Linked DNA regions of Homo sapiens. The protein of the gene in region 1 interacts with the protein of each later gene in a biochemical or structural test. Each region holds a gene or a part of one and is shown on either strand. Other genes may lie near its edges.

Region 1 (3,500 bases):
GGATGGCCAGCTTGCAAGCACGCTGGCAAATCTCTGTCAGGTCAGCTCCAGAGAAGCCATTAGTCATTTTAGCCAGGAACTCCAAGTCCACATCCTAAAAGCAGCAGCAGAGGTACCTTAGCATTTAGCCTCTCCTCTCGAGATACGCAGATCTTTGGGCTACCCGAGCACTCCCAACTACAGTTTGCCCCTTCTTTGGCCACCCCATTTTATTCCTGATTCTAGATTATCTTGATATCCTCAAAAATTCTACCTTCCCTTTAGACCAACCCTAACCCCAGTGGAATCTTGTCCAGAAACTAAAGAGCACTCCGTACCAGCCTGAGGACTCATGCAAGTCTCCCACAGCCCATGATCTTGCACCTGCCTTGGCAACTGGGGACTTGCGCAGGTTAGCCTTGAGGATGGCAACACGGGACTTCTCATCAGGAAGTGGGATGTAGATGAGCTGATCAAGACGGCCAGGTCTGAGGATGGCAGGATCAATGATGTCAGGCCGGTTGGTAGCGCCAATGATGAACACATTTTTTTTTGTGGACATGCCATCCATTTCTGTCAGGATCTGGTTGATGACTCGGTCAGCAGCCCCACCACCATCTCCAATGTTACCTCCACGAGCCTTGGCAATCGAATCCAGCTCATCAAAGAATAGCACACAGGGGGCAGCTTGGCGGGCCTGTAGGAGGAATGGATTGATTCAAGCACTAACAAAACTAGATGTCTCTAGGCAAACGTGGTGGCTCACACCTGTATTCCCAGCACTTTGGGAGGCCAAGGTGGGAGGATCACTTGAGGCCAGAAATCCGAAACCAGCATGGGCAACATACTGAGACTTTGTCTCTACAAAAAATAAAAAATTAGCCAGATGTGGTGACGCATGCCTATAGTCCCAGCTACTCAGGAGGCTGAAGTAGGAGAATTGCTTAAGCCCAGGTTTCAAGGTTACAGTGAGCCATGACTGTACCACTGCCCTCCAACCTGGGCAACAGAGCCAGACCCTGTCTCAAGAGAGAGAGAGAGAAAAAAAAAATAACACTAGGTCTCTCAGACCTCAGAAAGAAAATCAAGTGACTTACTGTGCAGTTGAGCAGCCAGCACTAAGAATATTTCAACCCTCTTAAAGAAAAACAGCCTCTATTCCTTGCCCTCAGGCAAATCAATACATAGTTCAGCCTATTGTAGCTCACCTTGTCAAAGATTTCTCTGACATTGGCCTCAGACTCCCCAAACCACATGGTGAGCAGCTCAGGACCCTTGATGGAGATGAAGTTGGCCTGGCATTCATTAGCAATGGCTTTGGCCAACAAAGTTTTCCCACAGCCAGGAGGTCCATAGAACAGAACTCCCTTGGAAGGTGTCATGCCAAACTTCAGGAATTTGTCTGGGTGCTCCACAGGATACTAGGAGGAAAAGGAAAGAGGGTTCAAGGCTACCTCCACATTTTGAAAGAAACCTAACTAAACAGAAGCATCCCCTCCATTATTTCATGGTGTACCCAATGGTATCAGATCCAGGTTCTCTAGAAGAAGACTCCTTAGTGCCTCAAACCTAAGAACAGTAGGTTCCTAAGTCGTGCTCTCACAACTCTTGCAGCAAATGTGTTGACACCCTGAGATCACCCAGATCAATTACAATGTACTGAGACAGTGACTCACCCTGGACCAAGTTGCCCTACCTGGACCAGCTCCTGTAGCTCACGTTTGACATCCTCTAGGCCCCCGATGTCTTCCCAGGTTACCTGTGGCACCTCTACCACGGTTTCCCGCAGTGCTGATGGGTTACTCTGGCTCAAGGCCCACTAGAAAAGGAGGGAAAACTGGGGATGAGACTTATCAAGGGAGGGGTCAAAGCACGTATGTGTGTACCTGAGGCACGGGTGTGGTCCTTACCCGGAAGTCATCCATAGTAACTGCTAGAGAGTTCATGACCTCGGCATCAATGGTCTCATCCTCTAGGTCAATGAGATCCATCTTCTTGCGGATGGCTTGCAGAGCAGCCTCTGAGCACAGGGCTGCTAAGTCAGCACCCACATGCCCGTGAGTCTCATTGGCTACCTGCAGAGAAAGATCTACTTACTATGCTGCCTCAAAGACCCAGCTGCTGCAGGAGGCTCAGAGACAATAGAATCCTTCCCCTGACTGCTATCCCTGGGTCCTCTCATTTCCTTGAATATATACTATCAATACCTTTATGGGCTGGGTTTTAAGTACTTAATTCTGGACTTGGGACCTAGAAATAAGGCTGCTCCAACAATTCTGATTTACTCTAAATGCAGCGTCAACTATGAAAAATGCCAACTCCCATTTCCTGGATTCAATCTCAGATTACTTCCTTTCCCCTGTCCAGAAATCAAAACCCATCTCCTCACATCTTAACCTTATGTCTCTAGCCAGTTCCCAGCAACTGCCTAGAGACACTGTAACGCCTGGTCAGCCATCATCATCACTTCACCTGTTCCAGGTCCACATCATCTGCCAGCTTCATGTTCTTGGTATGGATCTGAAGAATCTCTAAGCGTCCTGTAGCATCAGGAATTCCAATATCTACCTCCCTGTCAAAGCGACCTGTGGGACAGTACACAAACATAAACAGGGCTCATCTCTAGTCCAGAGGTAAGAGACAGGCCTAGGGTGACCAACCATCTCAGCCAGCACAGGATTGTCCTAATGCCAGCACTAAAAAAGTCTCAAGCTCTGGGAAACCTTTCAGTCTCAGGAAAACCAGGGTGGTTGGTCACTCTAGACAGGACGTAGGGTAAAGGAAAAAGACCCCTGGACCCAATCACTGTGAAGGGCTTCAAGAGGATTAGGTGACTTAGATGAAGGAGAGAAGTAGGACCTAAGCAAGGACGGGGTCAAAAGTATCTGGAGTCCTTACCAAATCGCCGTAGAGCTGGGTCAATGCTGTTGGGTCTGTTGGTTGCTGCCATAACAATCACATGTGCCCTCTGCTTTAGGCCATCCATGAGGGTCAACAACTGTGATACAATGCGCCGCTCCACCTCGCCATGAGTCTGCCAGAACAGGATGTCTGGTCAGAAGTGAAGTCAGGGCCTTTCAACCCCCCTCTATCCCCTCAGGTAAGCTCCTACTTTCTCTCTTTTGGGAGCGATGGCATCTAGCTCATCAATGAAGATGATGGCAGGAGCATTCTTCTCAGCCTCCTCAAAGGCTTTACGAAGGTTGCTCTCAGACTCACCAGCCAATTTGCTCATGATCTCAGGACCTGAAAGGATACAGAATGGAGACAATAACAAAATGATAGTCTTTCCCAATTCCTCCCAAAAATCAGTTATCTTGCTTGTTTGGCCCAGAGACAGGTCCTGGGTGAGAAGGTGGTAACCTCTGCCTACTTCTCACATCCTCTACCAGCCATTATCCCAGGACAGCCACCAGGCAAGGCTGGAGAGAAGCCCAGGGACTCACTATACTCTTCTCACAGTTGAACTGTAAAGGTGACAGCAAATGCTCTAGGACCTCTGGCTAGAGCAAGAGAGATGG
Region 2 (2,889 bases), on another chromosome or scaffold:
CTGGGAGCAGCTGGGCCAGGGACGCAGGTGTCAATGGCCAAGGAGGTGGAAGGGTGGTGGGCCCTGTGAGAACACAGCTCTAGTCTCTGTGCTGGGCCTGATGACCTGCTTCAGTGCCATGGGCCAAGTCCTGAGGCTTGTGTATGTCATATAAGCTTATGATGTCACTTGACCATGAAGGCTCCAGCAGCTCCAGCAGCTCCCACAGCTCCCATCTGCAGGGCAGGAAGACCACCTGTACTGTGGTTTGGGAAGGCCCTTGCAGAAGCACCCAGCCAGGCCCATGCCCTGGGGCCACTTCCTCATCCCTGGCTACAGAAAACACGGGGCCTGTCCCTGCTGGCAGCTGCCTGGGGGACCCTCCATAATGCCAGATGTTAGCTGGTGGGACAGTTTCTGCCCCTGCTGGAGAAGCACTTAGGAGACTGCTTCCTAAGACTCCAGCTCAGCAAGGTCTAGGTTCTCATGAAGCAAAGCAAGCCTCACACAGCAACAACTGATGGTTTCCATTTTTTTCCTTTAATTTGGATGTACAATGTTTGCAGCAGTTAAAAAATTAAATATACATCTCTCGTCAGTCCTTCCCTTTGCTCTCAGAAGCATTCAGGTCTGGGTGGGGCTCCGGGACTCGCCCATCACAGCCCTGCTGGCTCCAGGGGAGCTCAAGCTCAGCTGACAGTCCCTCTGACCACGGTGCAAAGCAGTGAGACCTGGACAAGGAGGCCCCACTTGGGTCAGAGCCCACCCTCCGTAGGCAGGTCCACGTTGGCCACGATCCTCCAAGGCTGGCAGTTACCACCCAGATTGCAGCGGGAGACTCTGCTCTTAGAAACAACTGAGGGGAAGGCGTTCCTTTGACTGCACCAGAGCGTGACAGGCACATGGGGGAAGAGCGGCCCCTGAACCTTCCAGGTTGCCTTCAGTTGTCATGCGGCATTCTGAGCAGCTCCCTCCTTCCCAGGAGGCCCAGGCCCGGCAAGCGAGTGTCCTCGTCTGAGCCATCCTGAGCTCTCCAAGGTCCCTCAGCAGCTCTCAAGATCTTCCTTCTTCTCACTCCTACACGTGACCCCTCTGGAGGACAGCTCCAAGTCTACCCTGGCCAGCAGCTGTGGTCCCGGGTCCTCCCCGCAGAGGGAGGAAGCGGGGGAGGGACAAAGCCCGATGAGGATGTCTGCTGGGAAGGATGCTCACAGGTAGCAAGAGAAGCCTGACTCCACCCACCAGACACACAGAACTAACCTCACTCCACCCCGCAACGGGAGGAAGTTCCACCTGCCAGGCGGCCACACACCGAGTTATTGCTGTCTACTATCCGTCCCGAGCTCCACGTGGGGCTCATCTCAGCTCCAAGAGGAGGAGCTGTTCATTGGCTCCGAGGGCTCTGAAATGACCCCCTCCATGAAGATGGGGGCGAGGGGTGTCCTTTAGGGCACAGGGCCTTCTCAGATGCTACATTCTGGGTGTCTGGAGGGGGTTCAGCTTCACATTTTCCCCTTGAAAGGACACATGCGCTGGCAGAAATGAGGGTGGACAGTAACAAAGAGCACTTGGCAGCTGGAAACATCACCTACATAGACTCAGCTGGGCCCGCAGCGGAAGGGAGGCACATTTTGGGAAAGAAACACGCTTCAGTGCATTGCCAAACAATTCTACCCTGGTTTCATTAAAATCTTTCCCGATATTACCAGCAGGAAAACAAAAGCAATCTCCCCACAGCCCACCCCCAAAACTTGACAACCAAATTAATCACATTTGCAACAAAATTTGGATAATACGATGGGTGCTTGCCACAGATTTTTAGGAACATGATAAAGTCTTCCTCCCTTCTGCAGAGAGCTGATATGGAGACCATCTTCGCCAGTGGGATCCTAGTGGGCAATGAATGAGCCCTGCCCTGACCACGTCCCACGCCTGGATGTCCGTCACGCGGCTAACTTGACCTGGCGGGTCTAAGGAAAGTCAACTTCCAGGAAGAACCGACACGGGCACTCTTAGAGGCCATGCATCTCCGTCTTGAGAGGTGTGTGTGTAAAATTATAGATGTGTCTATATGCACATGCATGGATACTTTATGTATATGCGTGGGTGAAGTCATTTTTACTAATGAGCTCATATTCATCTCCGGAGCACACAGGCAGGTCTTTGGGGGTGGGGGACACCTACTGCCAGAGCGGGGTGTTCTGAGCCCCTTGCTAAGGACTGGTTTAGATCACGTCGTAAACAAGAGGAAGACAAACTCTATGTTGAGCCCAGCGATATGCATTCCAAGGGAATGGCTCTGTTTTACATTCACAGTGTTATTTCTTACAAATGTAAACATCTAGCCAGGAACAACATCTGGCCTGTGATACTGCTGTCTCAGAGCTGCTGACATAACCTGCGGGGGAGGCGGGAGGCGGGTGGGGAGCAGCCAACAGTTCTGAGAACTTTCCCCTCGTTCCCAAACCTTCTAGCGGGCTTTCCAGGAAAAAGCTAGGATGAGAAACAGGAGCCCCCAACCAATACGGAATGGTGATTTTCTTACGTGTTATAATTCAGTAGCTTCCCTTAAGGGCCTCCTCAAACATCGGACCCCTTTCTACCGCTCCTGCTGCCCCGCCACGAGGACGAGGTGGTCCTGGCTGGGGGAGGCCTCTGTTGGGAGCTGGTGGGAAAAGCCTCATACAGGCCTGGCAGAGGCTGCTCAGAGGAGGGGCTCCCTTTCAGCTCCCCCTCACGTATGTGGGCAGCATACAAGTCCACATCTCAGCTGCTCCCCAGCTGCCACATAGGAGAGGGACAGGTGGAAGCTTGGGGGTCTCAAGGCAGCACCTGCACAGAGTTCCAACATTTCCTCCACTTACCACATTCAATACCCAAAACATCGACGGGCATGACCAAACCAAGCCA

The links. The genes of interacting proteins can lie anywhere in the genome.
Region 2: the proteins of VCP (region 1) and HTT form a complex in vitro, tested with the Homo sapiens proteins (3 studies listed by BioGRID).

The regions. Positions count from the first base shown.
Region 1 is NC_000009.12:35,059,126-35,062,625, forward strand, and holds part of VCP (transitional endoplasmic reticulum ATPase), read right to left. Parts: intron 3,226-3,500; coding exon 3,092-3,225; intron 3,014-3,091; coding exon 2,878-3,013; intron 2,565-2,877; coding exon 2,452-2,564; intron 2,055-2,451; coding exon 1,890-2,054; intron 1,799-1,889; coding exon 1,676-1,798; intron 1,401-1,675; coding exon 1,188-1,400; intron 677-1,187; coding exon 368-676; intron 95-367; coding exon 1-94. UniProt on the Homo sapiens protein: Necessary for the fragmentation of Golgi stacks during mitosis and for their reassembly after mitosis. Involved in the formation of the transitional endoplasmic reticulum (tER).
Region 2 is NC_000004.12:3,241,569-3,244,457, reverse strand, and holds the end of HTT (huntingtin), read right to left. Parts: 3' UTR 501-2,889; downstream 1-500.